Homo sapiens: one gene and its partners. The protein of the gene in region 4 purifies or fractionates together with the protein of the main gene of each other region. This does not show direct contact. Each region holds a gene or a part of one and is shown on either strand. Other genes may lie near its edges. The genes, in order: ERC1, RER1, WDR48, SLC16A6, ERLIN2 and SURF4.

What was found.
Region 1: the proteins of SLC16A6 (region 4) and ERC1 purify together in Homo sapiens (affinity purification with mass spectrometry; one large-scale study listed by BioGRID and IntAct). This does not show direct contact.
Region 2: the proteins of SLC16A6 (region 4) and RER1 purify together in Homo sapiens (affinity purification with mass spectrometry; one large-scale study listed by BioGRID and IntAct). This does not show direct contact.
Region 3: the proteins of SLC16A6 (region 4) and WDR48 purify together in Homo sapiens (affinity purification with mass spectrometry; one large-scale study listed by BioGRID and IntAct). This does not show direct contact.
Region 5: the proteins of SLC16A6 (region 4) and ERLIN2 purify together in Homo sapiens (affinity purification with mass spectrometry; one large-scale study listed by BioGRID and IntAct). This does not show direct contact.
Region 6: the proteins of SLC16A6 (region 4) and SURF4 purify together in Homo sapiens (affinity purification with mass spectrometry; one large-scale study listed by BioGRID and IntAct). This does not show direct contact.

Annotation. Positions count from the first base shown.
Region 1 is NC_000012.12:1,078,223-1,081,722, forward strand, and holds part of ERC1 (ELKS/Rab6-interacting/CAST family member 1), read left to right. Parts: intron 1-3,500. UniProt on the Homo sapiens protein: Regulatory subunit of the IKK complex. Probably recruits IkappaBalpha/NFKBIA to the complex. May be involved in the organization of the cytomatrix at the nerve terminals active zone (CAZ) which regulates neurotransmitter release.
Region 2 is NC_000001.11:2,394,841-2,398,340, forward strand, and holds part of RER1 (protein RER1), read left to right. Parts: intron 1-943; 5' UTR 944-950; coding exon 951-1,031; intron 1,032-2,275; coding exon 2,276-2,380; intron 2,381-3,500. UniProt on the Homo sapiens protein: Involved in the retrieval of endoplasmic reticulum membrane proteins from the early Golgi compartment.
Region 3 is NC_000003.12:39,058,516-39,062,015, reverse strand, and holds part of WDR48 (WD repeat-containing protein 48), read right to left. Parts: intron 1-3,500. UniProt on the Homo sapiens protein: Regulator of deubiquitinating complexes, which acts as a strong activator of USP1, USP12 and USP46. Enhances the USP1-mediated deubiquitination of FANCD2; USP1 being almost inactive by itself.
Region 4 is NC_000017.11:68,270,628-68,274,127, reverse strand, and holds part of SLC16A6 (monocarboxylate transporter 7), read left to right. Parts: intron 1-57; coding exon 58-201; intron 202-1,360; coding exon 1,361-1,489; intron 1,490-2,473; coding exon 2,474-3,289; intron 3,290-3,500. UniProt on the Homo sapiens protein: Monocarboxylate transporter selective for taurine. May associate with BSG/CD147 or EMB/GP70 ancillary proteins to mediate facilitative efflux or influx of taurine across the plasma membrane. The transport is pH- and sodium-independent.
Region 5 is NC_000008.11:37,753,634-37,756,277, forward strand, and holds part of ERLIN2 (erlin-2), read left to right. Parts: intron 1-281; coding exon 282-482; 3' UTR 483-2,644. UniProt on the Homo sapiens protein: Component of the ERLIN1/ERLIN2 complex which mediates the endoplasmic reticulum-associated degradation (ERAD) of inositol 1,4,5-trisphosphate receptors (IP3Rs) such as ITPR1.
Region 6 is NC_000009.12:133,369,561-133,373,060, reverse strand, and holds part of SURF4 (surfeit locus protein 4), read left to right. Parts: exon of another isoform or gene 1-2,139; coding exon of another isoform or gene 2,140-2,185; intron 2,186-3,500. UniProt on the Homo sapiens protein: Endoplasmic reticulum cargo receptor that mediates the export of lipoproteins by recruiting cargos into COPII vesicles to facilitate their secretion.

The DNA of each region.
Region 1 (3,500 bases), on a different chromosome or scaffold from region 4:
TCACTTCTGGTATTTCCCTTTGGGATATATTCACTCAGGAGTGTCAGGATTTTTTTTGACTTCCAAGGGAAAGAAACTAGGCTTCAGAGAATTAGCATTTTGATACATCTTTTTATTGAAGGTCTTTTGAACTCCAGCAACTGTTAATCTTTAAAAGATGATGCTGGTAGTGAAATGCATTTTAAAATTTATATTCATGAATTTAAATTCCTGATTTTTTTTTTTTTGGTGAGTTTATTCTTCGAAAGAAATAGCAGTGCTTTTCAAGTGTTTGAAGACTACCAGAATTGAAAGCTCACTGCTTGCTAAAAGCATAATACCCAAACCGGAAATGATAAAGGAAAATGTCATTGTCTTTGTATTAAAAAAGAAAATATCTATTAAAAGTCATCATAAACAATGTTAAAAGAAAAATGGCAGACTTGGAAAAATATTTGTAACATACACAGCAGGTGAAAGGTTATTTTCCTAATATGAAGAGCTCTTAAAATGGATTAAGAAAAAATGTTCAATAACAAAATGGGCAAAGAACAAGGAGAGAGGAGTCACAAAAGTTGATATACAAAGACACAGATAGAAATGATTTGTAATATGACAAAAGTCGATATACAAAGATACATATAGAAATGATTTGTAATATGACAAAAGTCGATATACAAAGATACAGATAGAAATGATTTGTAATATGATAAAAGTCGATATACAAAGATACAGATAGAAATGATTTGTAATATGACAAAAGTCAATATACAAAGATACAGATAGAAATGATTTGTAATATGACAAGTCGATATACAGAGATACAGATAGAAATGATTTGTAATATGACAAAAGTCGATATACAGAGATACATATAGAAATGATTTGTAATATGACAAAAGTCGATATACAGAGATACATATAGAAATGATTTGTAATATGACAAGTCGATATACAGAGATACAGATAGAAATGATTTGTAATATGACAAAAGTCGATATACAGAGATACAGATAGAAATGATTTGTAATAAGACAAAAGTCGATATACAGAGATACAGATAGAAATGATTTGTAATACGACAAGTCGATATACAGAGATACAGATAGAAATGATTTGTAATATGACAAAAGTCGATATACAGAGATACAGATAGAAATGATTTGTAATATGACAAAAGTCGATATACAGAGATACAGATAGAAATGATTTGTAATATGACAAAAGTCGATATACAGAGATACAGATAGAAATGATTTGTAATATGACAAAAGTCGATATACAGAGATACAGATAGAAATGATTTGTAATATGACAAAAGTCGATATACAGAGATACAGATAGAAATGATTTGTAATATGACAAAAGTCGATATACAGAGATACAGATAGAAATGATTTGTAATATGACAAAAGTCGATATACAGAGATACAGATAGAAATGATTTGTAATATGACAAAAGTCGATATACAGAGATACAGATAGAAATGATTTGTAATATGACAAAAGTCGATATACAGAGATATAGACAGAAATGATTTGTAATATGACAAAAGTCGATATACAGAGATACAGATAGAAATGATTTGTAATATGACAAAAGTCGATATACAGAGATACAGATAGAAATGATTTGTAATATGACAAAAGTCGATATACAGAGATACAGATAGAAATGATTTGTAATATGACAAAAGTTGATATACAAAGATACATATAGAAATGATTTGTAATATGTATCAGAATTACAATTGTACATACTTTGTGATCCAGCAATTCCATCTTTGAGAGTTCCCAAGAAAAATGTGGATTCATGTGTAAAGATACATATGTGAAGGTGCATCTTACAATAGTGAAAAATGAGAACTAACCTAAAATATCCGTAAGTGGAATTTTATGACCAACATCTTCTCTCCAACCAATTTTTTTATTATGGTAAAATATATATAACATAAAATTTACCATCTTAACCATTTCGAAGTGTACAGTTTAGTGGCATTCAGTATATCCCATCTATCTCCAGAACTCTTTTCATCTTGACAGACTGAAACTGTATACCCATTAAACAATAACTCCTCGTTCTGTCCCACTCCTATGTCCTGGCAACCACTGTTCTAGTTCCTTCTTTATCAATTCGACTGCTCTAGATACCTCATGTCAATGGATACATATAGTGTTTGTCTTTTTGTGATTGGCTTATTTCACTTAGCACAACGTCTTGAAGGTTCATCTGTGTTGTAGCATGTGTAAGAATTTCTTTCCTTTTTAAGGCTGAAAATCATTAGCAGGTGATATGGTTTGGCTGTGTCTCCATTCAAATCTCAACTGGAATTGTATCTCTCAGAATTCCCACATGTTGTGGGAGGGCCATAGGAGGAGGTAATTGAATCATGGGGGCCAGTCTTTCCCATGCTATTCTCGTGATAGTGAGTAAGTCTCACGAGATCTGATGGGTTTATCAGGGGGTTCCGCTTTTGCTTCTTCCTGATTTTCTCTTGCTGCCGCCATGTAAGAAGTGCCTTTTGCCTCATACCGTGATTCTGAGGCTTCCTCAGCCATGTGGAACTGTAAGTCCAATTAAACAAGTGCCTTTTGCCTCATACCGTGATTCTGAGGCTTCCTTAGCCACGTGGATCTGTAAGTCCAATTAAACCTCTTTTTGTTTCCAGTTTTGGGTATGTCTTTATCAGCAGCGTGAAAACGAACTAATAGAGCAGCCACCTTATTTCCAAAAAAAAAAAAAGATTTTTTCAATGGATAATGCAGGTATTTATACCCTTATTTAAAGTATGAGGGATCTGAAACCCAGAAAGATGGTGACATGTCTAAATGTCATAACTAGTCAGCGTGAGAGTCAGAACTGAAACTCATGTTTTCTCATCACAGTTTCGTGTTCTTCCCAGTATGGTACACTGCTTAGGCCTTGAATACAAGGAATGATCTTTTATTGTTGCTTCTTCATTCCTAAAAATAAGATTTTTGATGTCACAGCCTTTTGGAATTCATTGTATAATGTGCTGGAATTTACATAACCATTCAGATTAAAGGTTCGTGTACCTTCTTTAGGGATAGAAGCTAAAGATCTACCCTCTCAAACATTTTAGTAGTTCATCTGCATTAACACCTTTATTTAATTAGCCACCCATGTTGTTACCGTCCCCTGTATAAAAAGCTTTGCATATTCTAACTTAAAAAAACTTTGCTATATTATTATCTTTGGGTATTACCAGTTTTGATTTCTGCAATCTGCTCTGTTTTTGCTACTAGAGGAGGAAAGCTGATTTGGAGTTTTCTTTTTTTCTTGGTTCTAGTTTTAGTGGGCTGCAAGGATTGCTTTGAATGCCAGCTCTATCACTTACTCTGTGATCTTGGACAAGTGCTTAAACCTCTCTAAGCCTCGTGCCCTCATTTATAAAATTAAATAATAGTACATGTGTTGGGTATCTAAAATAGTCAAATTCACAGAATCAAAGTGTGTAATGGTAGTTGCCGGGGGTAGGGGGAAATGGAGAGTTACTAAT
Region 2 (3,500 bases), on a different chromosome or scaffold from region 4:
GCTCAGGGGCCAGGAGGCCTCTCATCTTTAAAGTAGGAATGACAACCGGCAGGCCCTGGGTACTGAGCTGTGCTTTACCGAAGAGCGGCAGGTCCTGACGCCGTCTCCTCTCAGGAGTGGGGTGGCGGCGTGCTCAGCTGAGGAGCCAGGTGGCAGTCAGGCTTGGCTTGGCCTGCCCAGAAGCAGGGCTGTGGCAGGACCTTGGACACGTGGCTTCCACTGTTTGAGACTTGGTGAAATGGGGGTCATGATGCCCTTCACTTGAGCATCTGGGAATTAAGTGGGTGAACAATGTGACCTCTGGCACCTGGGTTCTCAGGTGAATTCCTCATGGCATCACAGCAGTGTTGAAATAGGAGCAGATACGTTACCTCCGCTTGCCAGATAAGAAACTGGGACGCAGATGGATGGACTACCTGAGAGTTGTAGATAACATTTTCCTGTTCATGGGGTGGAGGACCTGGCCCTGAGAGGACAGGATCCCTCCTGCTCCTGCCAGACCAGAGACCCAGGACAGGGCGTGGAGCAGACAAGGTGCCTGGGCGGGGGAACCCTGAGGGATCCACAGAGGGTGCGGTCCTTGGAGGGAGGACATGCAGTGCCACGTGCCATGGACCAGCCAGTGGACCCCATGGCCAGCAAGGCTGCTCCTGGGGCCAGTGGGGTGGACAGTCCCGCCCACGCAGGTGACTGAGGTGCCAGTGTGGGAATGAAAATGCGGCCTGTGCTCCTGGGCCCATGCGTCTCACGCTGCCCTTCCTCTCCAGGGAAGCCTGTGTACCTGCTACTTTTTCCCGAACAATTCATGGTAAAAACACAAATGGTATATGGACAAAATACTGAATGTGGAAGAAACCTACTTGACAGTGTTGGTGAAAATAGGGCCAGGATTTCACACCCGTGAATGCTTTTTACTGAAAAGTATTTTGTGTTTTTCTCCCAGTTACAGAATGTCTGAAGGGGACAGTGTGGGAGAATCCGTCCATGGGAAACCTTCGGTGGTGTACAGATTTTTCACAAGACTTGGACAGGTTGGTGGGTTTTTTAGTAGATGAGTATAAATATTTGAAAAAGAAACGGGACTCCCAGCATTTTCGGGAAGGATCTGTTTGCTGGTGTTCCTGATGGAGAAGTTACTTCGCCTCAGGCTCAAACTTCCTGAAGACAGCGTTCTCTTCACTGTGAAGGGCCAGCTGTGGAGAGATCGGGCTCTGGGGCCACACGTGGTCTATCAAACATATGCGTTTTCTGTTTCTGTTTTCCTTTTACCAAGCTTTAAAAATATAAAACCCAGTCTCAGCTCCCAGGCAGGACAGATGCGGCCGTGGCTGCCGTTCTGCTCTTGCTGTCCCTCTCCCAGCCACCCACGTCCCCGGTGCTGGTAGCCCCACCTGCCCCGTGTCAGCTCGGCGGTTCTGTCCTTGAGGGTGAGAGGCTCTTGTGTGGGCTGCGTGTGCATTGCTTGGTGAGTGAGGGACCTAGAGCTGCCTTTGAACGCTGGAGTCCGAACCTCTGTCAGGAAAAGCTTGGGTCACCGGCAGTTCCAGGTGCTGAGGATCCGGCTCAAATAAAAATTCATCACCTTAATTAAATCACATATGAAAAGCGATTGGCGATTAATGAAGTTGGGTGACAGGCATATGTAAGCTTCTATAATCTTTTTACTTTTGTGAATTTGGAAATTTCTCACAATTTGAAAATTAAATTTCTAAATTAAAATAAAAAACCATACATATGTATATTTGTAAAAATAAATACATAAAACTAAGGGCTCCTTCGGTCATGTCCACAGCCGCCTGGACGCACACACATGTGGGTGTGGCTGCTGGGGCTCAGGCTGTGGCCAGTGGGCCTGGGAGCGGGGCAAGGCTGGCTGCTGGCTGCTGCAGATGGGGGAGCTGACTTGAGATGTGACGATAAGGGCTGTGCTGTAGGGTGGGGACTTTGAGATGCACAGTCCTCTCTTTGGGGTGAGGCTGGGTCTTCCCCATAGTGATCCCTTGGGGCCAGCACAATGTCACAGTCTCCTAGGAGATTGTTTTGTAATAGTCTTGCTTAAGAGATGAACCTGCTTCAGGAATTATTGAAAATAAACTTTGGATTAATTGTAGTCACTTCTTTGTGCTGATACATAGATGATCTCTTGCTATTTTAACTCACTCTTTTAGCTGTTTTAAAAATTGAAAGCCAACCCTAGCAGAAGGTACATTTTGTGGCAGGGTCAGTACAGAAGTTACAGGACCTGCTTCATGCTTTTGGACTCTTGTCTTTCTAGATTTATCAGTCCTGGCTAGACAAGTCCACACCCTACACGGCTGTGCGATGGGTCGTGACACTGGGCCTGAGCTTTGTCTACATGATTCGAGTTTACCTGCTGCAGGTAGGTGTGGGCTGAAGTGACGAGACTTGGCTCTGTCCACGTTACCTGGGCGTGATGTTTGTGGGGATGTTGTTGATCCAGTCTGTCTTGCAGGAAGTGGTCTCTAGTAATCAATTTTCAGCTAAACGCCAAATGTCAGAAAGATCTCAGTGACTGTCTTTAACGAACAGGGTTGTTTATGATTCACCCGGAGTCGCCTCGCCAGGCTTCTCAGTATACCCAGGCCGTCCTGAGCCCAGCCTGGCCCTGCCCTGGGCACGTCCAGGCCTGGACAGTGGAGCCGCTGGTGTCCCTCCGACCCTGCTGCATGATGCTCAGGACAAGGTTGCGCTCTGTGGCTGCCTCATTCCTTGGGTGAAGAGTCCATGCCTTGGGTGTCATGAATGACTCGGCGTCCAAAGGGTTTATGTAGCTTTTCCTGAGCTCTCCCTTGTGTGAGGCCAAAGCACAGTGCAGGTTGAGACGCCGAGTCAAGTAAGAGAGACAGTGACCGAAGGGGGTCTTGAGGGTTTCCTTCGTGTGTTTTCGGGCACCCCTAGGTCAGGTGATGTCGTCTCAGACTTCACCTGGGTGCTCCTTTACTTGCTGGTAAACACGGGGTTTCTAGGAGCAAACCTGTAAGATGGGAATTCTTCGTCGGTCTTTAGAGGAGGTTACATAATCTTATGTGCAGAGCAGGGCATGTTGAAAGCCTTGTCTGGGCTATTTTCTCCTCTGGGGACTGTAGAAGATACTTCCTTGTTTAAAGCACACACCTTAATTTATTTATTTATTTTTGTTTTTAAATTGGAACTGGGTCCATTCTCTGATGGAAAGAATGACCTAGAAATCTTGAATCAGGGACTTCAGGCAGGAGCAGGGGGCGGGAAGAGTGCAGCACCCACAGGTCAGTTTTATTGCGTTCGAAACCAAGCTCGTGCCTCATTTGGCGTCTCTTCAGGTGTGGCCCTGCAGCCGAGGATGGACACACAGACATCAGTTAGCCCTCACATCCGGCGTTCAGCCGAGGATGGACACACAGACATCAGTTAGCCCTCACATCCGGCGTTCAGCCAGGGATGGACACACAGACATCAGTTAGCCCTCACATCTGGCGTTCAGCCGTCTGACTGGAAAAGCT
Region 3 (3,500 bases), on a different chromosome or scaffold from region 4:
ATCTGACAAAGGGCTAATATACAGAATCTACAAAGAACTTAAACAAATGTACAACAACAACAACAACAAAAACAACCCCATCAAAAAGTGGGCAAAGGATATGAACAGACACTTCTCAAAAGAAGACATTTCTGCAGCAGACACAAGAAAAAATGCTCATCATCACTGGCCATCAGAGAAATGCAAATCAAAACCACAATGAGATACCATCTCATGCCAGTTAGAGTGGCAGTCATTAAAAAGTCAGGAAACAACAGATGCTGGAGAGGATGTGGAGAAATAGGAATGCTTTTACACTGTTGGTGGGAGTGTAAAGTAGTTCAACCACTGTGGAAGACAGTGTGGCGATTCCTCAAGAATCTACAACTAGAAATACCATTTGACCCGGCCATCCCATTACTGAGTATATACCCAAAGGATTATAAATCATTCTACTATAAAGAAACATGCCCACGTATGTTTATTGCAGCACTATTCACAATAGCAAAGACTTGGAACCAACCCAAATGTCCATCAATGATAGACTGAATTAAGAAAATGTGGCACATATACACCATGGAATACTATGCAGCCATAAAAAAGGATGAGTTCATGTCCTTTGCAGGGACATGGATGAAGCCAGAAACCATCATTCTCAGCAAACTATCACAAGGACAGAAAACCAAACACCACATGTTCTCACTCGTAAGTGGGAGCTGAACAATGAGAACACATGGACACAGGGCAGGGAACATCACACACTGGGGCATGTTGGGGGGTAGGGGGCTGGGGGAGGGATAGCATTAGGAGAAATACCTAATGTAAATAACAAGTTGATGGGTGCAACAAACCAACATGGCACATGTATACTTATGTAACAAACCTGCACGTTGTGCACATGTACCCTAGAACTTGAAGTATAATAATTAAAAAAAATTATCTCAAGTACCTATAGTGATTCTATTAGGAACAATTATACCCTTTCTCCACATCTTAAACCAAAAACGAATTTTTCTATGAATTAAAGACTGAAATTTAATAACCATAAAAATAATTTTTGTTTTTATTTTTTGAGAGAATCTTGCTCTGTCACCCAGGCTGGAAAGCAGTGGCCCGATCTTGGCTTACTACATCCTCTACCTCCCAGGTTCAAGCAATTCTCGTGCCTCAGCCTCCTGAGTAGCTGGGATTACAGGCATATGCCACTGTGCCCAGCTGATTTTTGCATTTTTAGTAGAGATGGTGGTTTCACCATGTTGGCCAGGCTGGGTTTCAAGTGGTCCACCCGCCTCAGCCTCCCAAAGTGCTGGGATTACAGGCGTGAGCCACTGCACCTGGCCAGCATAAAAATAATTTTTAAAAGACAGGTGAATATTTACATAGTCCCTTGCCAGAGAAAACTCTTCCAACATGCCAAGAAAGATGGTAATCTTTACGAAGGAAAAGAGCAATGGTGATCTGGCCAAATACAAGTCAAAACCTTTTCTATGTACAAGAATGTTCACAGCATTGTGGCATTCACAATAATGTTACAAAAGTGGAAACAACCCAAATATCCATCAATGGACAAAACAAATAAAATGTGATGTGTGTGTGTGCATATATATATATATATATGCACACACACACACTGTACTGACACATGCTATAACGTGGATGAACCTTGAAAATGTGCTAAGTGAAAGAAGCCACATATTTTACAAAAGGCCACATATTTTATGACTCTATTTATATATAATGTCTAGGATAGACAAATCCACACAGAAAGTAGATTAGTAATTGCCAGGAGATTGAAGGAGGGAAAAATGAAAAACGGGGAGTAATTGCTAATGAACATAGAGTAATTAAACATTCTGGAGTTAGGTGACCAATAAACAACTTTCCGAATATACAAAAAAATCACTGAATTGTACACTTTGAAAGGGTGCACTTTATGGTATGTGAATTTTATCACAATGTTATTATTTTCTTAAACCTTCTGAATGTCAAAAAGTAACACGAGCAAGACTAAGAGAATAATGAAATAAATATGAAAGAAAGTTTACTCTTAACAAGATTCCTTATAAAATAAGAAAAAGTCAAATTTACCAACAGAAAGAGGGACAGTTACAAAAAGGGACTTTTTAAAAAAGAAATGGCCAAAAACCCCATAAATAATCAAAGACAAAATTAATATGAGATTATTTTACCTATAATACAAGAATTTTTTAAAATAACTGCCATTTTTGTTTCCCCTGAGGATAAATAAACACTTTCTGACAAAAGTTTTAAACTCTTTGAAATGTTCTTTAAAATTCAATTTCCAGAAATTTGTCCTTTAAAAAGGGCCAGGGCTGCAGACACAAATAGCTACAAGGATGTTGTTTTAACCCAGTCTTTTGGATGCAATTAACTGTAACTGAGATCTACTCAAACCAGCTTTTGTTTGTTTGTTTGTTTTTTAAAGGAGACTTCAACACAAGGATATCTTAACAGAGCCCAAGGTCAGGAAATACAGTCATCATTTATAAGAGGCATTTAAAAAATCAAATCATGACACTTCTCTGCTGAAACTTTCCAATGGCTTTTCACAAAATTTAAAGTTCAAACTCCTCAAATGCTTAGTTCTGACCCTGCATCCCCCACTCATTTCAAACTGACTGCCCCCAGCTTCTTTTATGACAGTCATTCCAAACTCCTTTCTGTTACCGTAAACACATCAAGCTCTTTCCCATCCCAGTACCTTCTCATTTACTGTTGCCAGTGTCATGAAGATTCACCACCCCTCGAATCCCTATAGGAATACTCTTTCTCCAGCTTTCATCTTGTCTAACTCACCCTTACTCTTCAGATCTTAGGAGAAAGGTCTCCTTGGAAAGGCCTTTCTGATCTCATTCTCCTCAGGGTTATGACCCTATCTATCTTACATTACTTATTTAACAGTTCTTACCACATTCTGTATTTTTTTTTTTTTTTTTTTTTTGAGACGGAGTCTCACTGTATCGCCCAGGCTGGAGTGCAGTGGTGCGATCTTGGCTCACTGCAACCTCTGCTGCCCAGGTTCAAGCAATTCTCCCAACTCAGGCTCCCGAGTAGCTTAGATTACAGGTGCCTGCTATGGCGCCCAGCTAATTTTTGTATTTTTAGTAGAGACAGGGTTTCGCCATCTTGGCCAGGCTGGTCTTAAACTCCTGACCTTCTGATCCACCCACCTTGGCCTCCCAAAATGCTGGGATTACAGGTGTGAGCCACCGCGCCCAGCCACATTTATATTTTTTGGTGTATCTTCTCCATTAGAATAATAGCTCCAAGAAGGCAAGGGACTTGTCTGCCTTGTTCCTTCCACCCCTGTGCCCCCATTATAGTGTCTGGCATATAAAAGACATACGTATCATTGCATGAATTGGCTTTCCAAAGCCACCAGGAACCAAGCTAGCTTCAATGTCAACTTCAGCCTCTCTCAATCTCTCTTTCTCTGGGGTTCCAGGGCTGCTTACCTAGCTCACATTTCCTTTAACTGAGACTGTGCAGCATATCTAAAT
Region 4 (3,500 bases):
GGCAGCTAACCCTGAAGCCTCTGTGAGTTAAAATATCGTTTTGTTCTTTCCCGGCAGCTCCCCTCGCCACAGTCCTGAGCAATCGTTTCGGACACCGTCTGGTAGTGATGTTGGGGGGGCTACTTGTCAGCACCGGGATGGTGGCCGCCTCCTTCTCACAAGAGGTTTCTCATATGTACGTCGCCATCGGCATCATCTCTGGTAAGTGTTCCTCTTTGGCTCAGAAGTTGTCTAGACACTTAGTTTGAAGAACAAGGAAGGGGAAGGAGGAAATTAAAGCCAAACTATATTTCTTTCTCTTTCTTTTTTTCTTTAACATTAACAGTGTCTCAGATCAGTAGTTTTGAACTGAGCTATATGGACTTCAGGGGACCTGGGAATCTGTTCTCAAGTGCCCAAGGGTTTTTGTTTGATCTTCACCAAAGATGATGATAATTTCTCTTTTGCTGTATTTGCAGCCAAAAGATAGCATTTTTACAAAGTAAGACGAATTTCTGTAGCCAGTATTTCTCACATCAGTGTCTGAGGATCCAGGGCTGTAGGGGAAGTGCAACATGCCAGACTTATTCTTGGGGGCCTAAGAAAACCTTTTTCCATTCAAAAGGAGTAGCCAGCATGGTGGCTCATGCCTGTAATCCCAGCACTTCGGGAGGCTGAGACAGGAGGATCACGTGAGCCCAGCAGTTTGAGACCAACTGGGGCAACATAGGGAGACTCCATCTCTACAAAAAATAAAAACTAGCCAAGCGTGGTGGTGCGTGCCTGTGGTCCCAGCTGTAACCATCCTATCACTTTGGAGGCTGAGGTGGGAGGATCACTTGAGCCTGGGAGGTCAAGGCTCCAGTGAGCTGTGATCACACCACTGCACTCCAGCCTGGGCAACAGAGTGAGACCCTGTCTGTTTAAAAAAAAAAAAATGAAATGAACAATAAAAGGAGGCCATATATTCCTCATAGATGATAGATACACACACAGTTGTTAAGATTTGCAGACTTTAAATTTTTCCTGTATTTCTGCACATATGAAATGACTTATTTCTTTCTAGATACAAATCTTATATAAAATTTCATGCAATAATAGTTTCATCCATTGTGAATTATATAAATTTGAAAAAAAGTGTTGCAAAGATAAAAAAAAAAAAAGTTATATTTTTAGTATCCCAAACAACCACTGAAGTTTATCCAGACCGTTAATGAAACCCATTTTTCTTTGCAACATCACCTTTGTCCAGAATGAATTACTTGGCTCCTAGAACTTAAGATTCAAAAAGCAAAACCAAAAATCCCAGATCTTTTAATGCATCCTTCCAGTCTCAAGCAGTATGTGGGTCTCATTGGCTTTTTTGACTTTTCTTTCACAGGTCTGGGATACTGCTTTAGTTTTCTCCCAACTGTAACCATCCTATCACAATATTTTGGCAAAAGACGTTCCATAGTCACTGCAGTTGCTTCCACAGGAGAATGTTTCGCTGTGTTTGCTTTCGCACCAGGTAGGTGGACTACAACAGCCTAAGTATGAATGTGGATGAGAGACGTCACTCAGGTATTCTTGCTACGCTAACTTTTGCCAACAGTATGGATGACTTTCAGTGTATGTGTAATGAGACGTTATTTACGTCTCTTCTCCAGCTCATTTTTAGGATCTGTCCTCCCTAACCCCCACTTTAGGTATTCAGACCACCTTAATAATAGGTTTCAATTCCTAACTGGGCACATATGCAGTGGTAGGGCTTTCTTGACACATGCATTCCAGAATAATCTAGTAATTTGCAATTATTCACCTGTTATGTCCTCTCGTTTTTCAAAAGAGCTACATTCAATGTGGATTTAGATTATGCTAATAAACACAGCATTCTTATCTGTGTGTAGATCATCTCAAAACAAAATCTGTAACTGAGCACGGTGGCTTACACCTGTAATCCCAGCACTTTGGGAGGCTGAGGTGGGCGGATCACCTGAGGTCAGGTGATCGAGACCAGCCTGGCCAACATGGCAAAAACCTGTCTCTACTTAAAACACACAAAAAAAGGCCAGGTGCAGTGGCTCATGCCTGTAATCCCAGTACTTTGAGAGGCCGAGGCAGGCAGATCAGGAGGTCAGGAGATCGAGACCATCCTGGCCAACACAGTGAAACCCTGTCTCTACTAAAAATACAAAAATTGGCTGGTCGTGGTGGCGCACGCCTATAGTCCCAGCTACTCAGGAGGCTGAGGCAGGAGAATCGCTTGAACCCGGGAGGTGGAGGTTGCGGTGAGCTGAGATCAGGCCACTGCACTCCAGCCTGGTGACAGAGTGAGACTCTGTCTCAAAAAGTAAATAAATAAAGATTGAGTACATTCATACTGCTGAGTATAATAAATTTCCACAGAACTTATAACAAAATCTGGATCCATATTTCTTCTTGATGGCTTCTCCTGGGTCTTGAGTCCATTATTGACCTTATATTATTTCTTCTTCACTCCTGCCTATTCAAGCAATCATGGCTCTGAAGGAGCGCATTGGCTGGAGATACAGCCTCCTCTTCGTGGGCCTACTACAGTTAAACATTGTCATCTTCGGAGCACTGCTCAGACCCATCTTTATCAGAGGACCAGCGTCACCGAAAATAGTCATCCAGGAAAATCGGAAAGAAGCGCAGTATATGCTTGAAAATGAGAAAACACGAACCTCAATAGACTCCATTGACTCAGGAGTAGAACTAACTACCTCACCTAAAAATGTGCCTACTCACACTAACCTGGAACTGGAGCCGAAGGCCGACATGCAGCAGGTCCTGGTGAAGACCAGCCCCAGGCCAAGCGAAAAGAAAGCCCCGCTATTAGACTTCTCCATTTTGAAAGAGAAAAGTTTTATTTGTTATGCATTATTTGGTCTCTTTGCAACACTGGGATTCTTTGCACCTTCCTTGTACATCATTCCTCTGGGCATTAGTCTGGGCATTGACCAGGACCGCGCTGCTTTTTTATTATCTACGATGGCCATTGCAGAAGTTTTCGGAAGGATCGGAGCTGGTTTTGTCCTCAACAGGGAGCCCATTCGTAAGATTTACATTGAGCTCATCTGCGTCATCTTATTGACTGTGTCTCTGTTTGCCTTTACTTTTGCTACTGAATTCTGGGGTCTAATGTCATGCAGCATATTTTTTGGGTTTATGGTTGGAACAATAGGAGGGACTCACATTCCACTGCTTGCTGAGGATGATGTCGTGGGCATTGAGAAGATGTCTTCTGCAGCTGGGGTCTACATCTTCATTCAGAGCATAGCAGGACTGGCTGGACCGCCCCTTGCAGGTAATTTAAATACACAAAATACAAACACTTGTCTACTTTCCCTTGTGAATTGTGCTAGCTTCCTGTTCAAGCCATAAAAAAAACTTACTGCCGTTTTATATTTCCATTGAATTTTAGAGCTGCCAGGGATTAGAGATTACCTGAGCCAGCCCTCTTGATTTAAATATGAGGAAACTGAAGGCCAAAGAATTGAAGCTAAAGGTCAGATGGT
Region 5 (2,644 bases), on a different chromosome or scaffold from region 4:
GGGCAGAACTGAGGATGCCTTTGCTGTGTGGTGCAGGTACTTTCCTTCTCCTTGGACATGCCTTGATAGAAGTTTAGTTTAATTTTGTGTTAAACATGGAAACTTTTAACTTTTGCACCTATGCTCCAAGATCTGAGATGACTGTCTCTTACAGAAATGTAACAATGAGACCACAAAAAGTAGGTAGGGGCATAAATATAGGAAAATTGAAGGGGCACCACTCCCCTCCTTCTCTAATATGGTTCAACATAAGTCTTCCATACTTTTTTTTTTTTTAACAGCTGAAGCTAACCCCTGAATATCTGCAGCTGATGAAGTACAAGGCCATTGCTTCCAACAGCAAGATTTACTTTGGCAAAGACATTCCTAACATGTTCATGGACTCTGCGGGCAGTGTGAGCAAGCAGTTTGAGGGGCTAGCTGACAAGCTAAGCTTTGGCTTAGAAGATGAACCCTTGGAGACGGCCACTAAGGAGAATTGAAAAAAACTTGATATGACTGCAAATGATACTTAAGCAGATCTTTATTTTTTAAGATGAATCAGAATGTTCCTCCCTCCCCGACTACCTTCTCTGACTGTCTTCCAGTTACTGTGGTGAAAAAGAAGAAATGAACTTAAATCCACTCCCTTTCTAGGGAAAGGAGGGTGGGGACTGATGATGGGGGGTTTTATTTCAGGTAAGCAGTTTATATGACTTCCAATAAGATTTGTAAATCATGGGCTTGACCTTTGACCTCTAGACACTAATTTTATCCTTTGAGGCTGGCTTAATTAGGGATGCTGTCATTAAGGAGAGGGAGAAATGTAGAGTGTTACCTCCAACTCATTTGATTTCCCTTACTTGGGAAAATGCAGTCCAGTGTTCTCACCTCTGCCTCCAAGGTAGGAGATGTCTGTGGGTGAGGCTCAGCAACTGAGCAAATATGTGCCTGTGAGTTTGCCAGTAGAGCTGTGAAGAAACAGCTGCAGAGAACATTTGACCTTCCTGGCATTCTTGTCTGCATGTGTGTGAGTTATTTTAGAGGTGTGCTTTCTTGAGCCCTCATAAGGAAGTACTGGTGCTAGGTTTTGCAAGATTTTGTATACACTTTGCTCCTTGCCCTAGGGCTCAGAGTGGTGGTTTCTGACTACATTTCTAGAGTCAGAGCTTGATCACCACAACTCAATTATTTCGGCATCTTTTCACCTATGCTGTGATTTGTTTTTTTTTTTTCTTCTCAAAAATTCTGTTCATTGGTTCCACTCAGCATCAAGAAGACAGGGACAAACAACTCAAGTGTCTTAACAGCTGCTGGAGTGGGATCCTTGTTATCTCTTAGCCACTGCAGGACCTGCCTGACAGGTTATGTGTGCACCTCGAGATGAAGTGTCTTTCTATTATTGTAGAGATTCTGTAGTGAAGAGGTCTGACACCATGTGTGGAGGAGGAGGAACGATCAGTCAAGAGATGTCCTGGTCTTAATGCCTGTGGCTTGTGCTGGGAGTGGGTCTGACTTAGTGATAAAAGGACTCTATTCACTAAGTAGCCTGTGTTTTTAAATCCAGGGCTGCAGGCAGCAACGCAAGTCAGGCTGAACATTCAGTCTCCAGAGACAGCTGTGTGGAGCAAATCAGAGTTCATGCCCAAGTCCCCAGGTTGGAATGGCTGTGCCAAAATCCATTCAAAGGGTTTTCTTTTTCATTACTAGGTCAGAACATTTTGAGTCACCTTGGGAGATTCAGGATGGGGAGAGCAAATTTGAACAAAAGGTTTTTCTTATATCCTGAGATTGAGGGGTAGGGGGTGTCCAACCTGTATAGCCCATGGGTTGTGTCTAGAATTAAGTGGAGGGCAGCTATCTGGAGTTAACTTGCAAGCATATTGGTGCCCTCCATGACCACCTCTGGCTTAGGACTTGGCCCTGTTATGAGCTGACCCCCACCCCCCACCCCCCACCCCCCCCCCCCGCCAACTCCTATACCCATCTTCCCTAGGTGAATCTGTGAATGGTCCTTTCTGGCAGCAATCCCTGCCTTCTTTTTGGGCCCATGCCCAGACTTCTGGTTTAAGGAATGGTCCCAGAGCTTGGGCCAGCTTGCTCAGAAGTTTTGGGAGCATTGAGCCTGCCTAGAAAGATACAGTGTTAGCTCCCCTTACTTCAAAGTTGCCCTTCTCTGTTCTGACTCCTGGGACTTCTGGTCCTGGGCACACTTTTTGCAGGCAACAAAATGTGCCTGGGAGTGATGGATTTTAATGTGCTCCAGAGTCCTTTCAGAAGGTGGTCATTTCCCTTGGCCGGGCGCGGTGGCTCACACCTGTAATCCCAGCACTTTGGGAGGCCAAGGCAGGCGGATCACCTGAGGTTAGGAGTTCGAGACCACCCTGGCCAACATGCGAAACCCCATCTCTACGAAAAATAGAAATATTAGCCGGGCATGGTGTCAGGCACCTGTAATCCCAGCTACTTGGGAGGCTGAGGCAGGAGAATTGCTTGAACTCGGGAGGCAGAGGTTGCAGTGAGCCAAGATCATGCCATCCCACTCTAGCTTGGGCAATAGAGCAAGGCTCCGTCTCAAGAAAAGAAGGTCATTTCCCAAGACTAGCATAGGGAGTATCCATTTAAAATACATTCATCTTCCTCCCATTTCCGTGCTATTAATCAC
Region 6 (3,500 bases), on a different chromosome or scaffold from region 4:
ACCCAAGTGGGTTAGGACCATATCTGTAAGGCACCATATCTGTAAGGCAGCGCAGGCTGCCGCCGTCAGATGATCTCCTTAAGAGTCCGTCTAGGTGGTGGCAGAGCATGGCTGTGGGAGCTTCCATGCCCTTTTGTGGGCAGCTTGGGAGGGCAGCTACTTGTACTCGCCCAAACCCCAATCAGACAGATGCAGGCAAGTAAACAGGGTTCGAAGTCAAAATATGGCTTCTTGTGGACAGAATCTGACCAAGCCCAGGTGGGGCTTTGTTTCTCTTTATTCACATAGTACTTAAAGCTGCCAGACCAGGCTTTTACATGAAAATGACCTAATTTGAAGCCGATAGAGGATTACCATGGAAGTCACTGATCAGATAAAGTGACACATCCATTTTTTCACATCTTCAGAAAACAAGAGCAAAACTGAAGTGACAAGATTTGACCAGAAAGTGTGGGCTGCTGAAAGCAAGACCTAAGTAAGCTTAGTTTCCCAGGCCCAGTGTCTTCCAGTATTATGACAATGACATTAAGTCTTTCACTGGGCCGGGTCCATGATAGACATTCCTTTTGTGAACTTCTTGACTGTAGGAGGTTGGCCAGAGCGTCACCATCTTCAGATGGGCAGAGGGAGGTTGGCTGGCCGCACTGGCTTGTGGTGGCCTGGAGACTGAGTCCGCATCCTGTTACCCCAAAGGCTGGGTTCCTCACTGCTTGGTTGACTGATCTTTCCTTCTGGCCTGCAGAGGCTGGTCCACGGGGACGAGCAGTCTGGTTAGTTTCTGCTGGCAGGCTCCCCACAGTTGCATCTCTTGTCTCTCTGCCTCTGGCATCAAGCTGCTTGCTCTGGCAGCCAGGGACAGTGTCCTCTTGCTCCCAGGAGCCATGCTCTGTAGAAACTGCTGAGACGTGCTCTATGCAGGAGCTTGGCATTTGGAAGCCATGGGAAGGGTCCAGAAACTAATGAACTCAGCAATCCAAACTAATGTCCATGCCTGCAGCTGCTCCTCATTGCCTATTAGACACTCTGTAAAATGTAGCTTCTAAGCAGTTTATACCCATAAACAGCAATATTAGCACTTAATGGGTTCTGCCTGGTGGCTCATCACCAAGGTGACAGAAAAGCTGCATGGGGCCTTCCTCTCCAGTGTGACCTTTGGTGTTTTTAACCTGTCCTCAAGAGTGGCAGAGCTAGTCCTGGGCCCTAGGAGCTGGCCTCGGCCCTAGTTGAAGTGCTGGGGAAGCAAGGATAGGCCTGAGGACCCCTGAACTTGCAGGTGGCACAGGCACTGTGAGGGTCCCGATGAACACCATGCTGGTGACTGGTGTGGCAAAGTCCTGGTGACAGTGGCAGGCTCTGTCATACCCTGCCCTATATCATGAAGGAGTGGGGAGAGAAGGCAAAGAGGAGCTGACTCACTTTTCTTTGTGTGATGATCTTAACGGGAGGTTAAAACTCACTCTTCAGGGGAGTGCGGGCGAGGAGCAGAGGAGGTTGTGGTTAGCGGGGCTCCTCCCAGAACATGGGGCCCAGTCGTTCTCAGTTACGTCTTTCCTATAGTTGGGATTTTGATCACACAGTTTTTTAGTAAAGCCAGGCCATCATCTCCCACATTGGGCTGGCGACATCCTTTCTGGCCCTGCAGGGTGCAGTGTGAACCTATAGAGCAGCATGGGAGCGGGGCTCGGGGAAGTTCTGGAGCTGCAGTGAGCCAGTGAGCTCGAGCCAGCTCTGACAGGCTGATGTGAGGGAAGCCGCTGGGCCGCAGGTGCTTGTTTCTAGGATGTGTGGGACCTGAGTTGGGCTTTGAACAAGGCAGCCCCAGTCCTTGGTGATCAAGGAAATCTGACCTGCCTTTTTCGTCGATGTTCACATTCACCACGAATTTGCAAGCTGCTTTCCTCAATTTCTTTCTGTCCTGAGTGTGAAGAGAAAGTGGAGTTTTCTGTGTGGCGTGGGAGCTGCAGGTGGCTGTGACAGTGATCACTGGATGCCCAGGAAGTCATCTCAGGGTGGATATAATTAATTACGTTTCTAAAATCCCCTTCAGTCGTCTAAAATAACCACCCCTTTGAGAGAAATATCAGTCTTCCTGTTAAGCCCCTCAGATGCTGTCACTGCTTATGAACCATATCCTGCTTGATGGCGCGGTTCTCGGAGAGACTTAATGAGAAGCTTGGCCACAGAGGTGAGCTAACTGTCATCTTCTTCCTGCAGCCTGCCAGGTCAACAGCCACCTCTGGCTCTGCTGTCGCAGTTCTCTAATGGGGGGGAGGGGGACTGTCACAAGTTTTATGTGCTCGCCGTGTTTACACAGGTCACCTGTGTGCTGGCTACCAGCAATGGCCTTAGTGCCTGCAGTGCGGCTGCTCTTGTCTGTCCTGGGGTGCTGTGTGTCCTGCCTGTGTTGAGGGCTCTTCTCTGCTGTGCTGAGGGGACACTGGCTCTGGGACGTGTTCTAGAGTGGCATGACATGGTTCCAGTGGCCAAGTTGAAGTAGTTGTGACCAACATGCATGTAGGAAATAAGGTTAATGTTGGGCCTTGTCTTTAAACGTGGCTTTTTCAGTGTTCAGTCCAAACAGATGCTCATTAAATGGTGGCCAGTTTAGAGGAGACTGCATCAGCCTGACTTCAGCCTTCAGTGTGGACCAGGCTTGCCTTTGAAAACCAGGACAGCCAAGCAGTAGGTGTGCTCAGTTCAGAAGGCAGTACCTAGATTTTTGCATATTTTTCCCCAAAGCCAAGAGCTGTGTCTGTTTCGTCACCATGTTTGCGCAGGGAAGGAGGTGTGAATTGCCTGTCCCACCTTCTCTCTCTTTTTTGCTCTTTAATCCTCTTGACCCAGACACTCAAATTAAGAGTCGCAGACTCATTCAAAGAGACTTTTAAACACTGCCTCAATCTCGTGGGCTGTGCACGTAGATGAGCATGTTAAATGCAGGTCCTGCAACTGGGGGAGGCTTAGACCGCAGCCCATGGCTGGGCTGGTTTGCTCATCTCAGGCCAGTGAGTGGCTCACAGCTCTCATTTTAGAAGCAAGTCAGAACACCTCTGGTGTCTGTCTTGGGTATGGATTGCAGTCTACCTCTCTGCTGCTGTTGGGGTCCACGCCCCACACCCACACCCTGCCCTGGGAGTCCCACCACGGCTCCGTCTCATCTCAGAGGTCTGGACAGCCTCCTGTTGAGCTCTTCCTTCCCAGTGGTTGCTTTTCCCCAGGTTCAGATGAGATAAAGGCTTGTGTCCTTGCTGGGGCTTCCCAGCTGGGCCACGATGTGAGGCCATTCCTTGAGAGCAGTGGCACATCGTGTGCCACGGTGGTGTGCTTTCTCTCTTCCATGGAATATGGGTGATTACACTGTTGCTGGGCATTTAGAGAGCAACGGGGCCATGAGGCAGAACCTGGGGAGGGTGTGTGGCGTCACCTTTCCCACCACCCAGTGTGATGCAGGTTGCGTCACACTGTGCACATGGGCATCTTGTGCTGGTTCTCTGCATTGG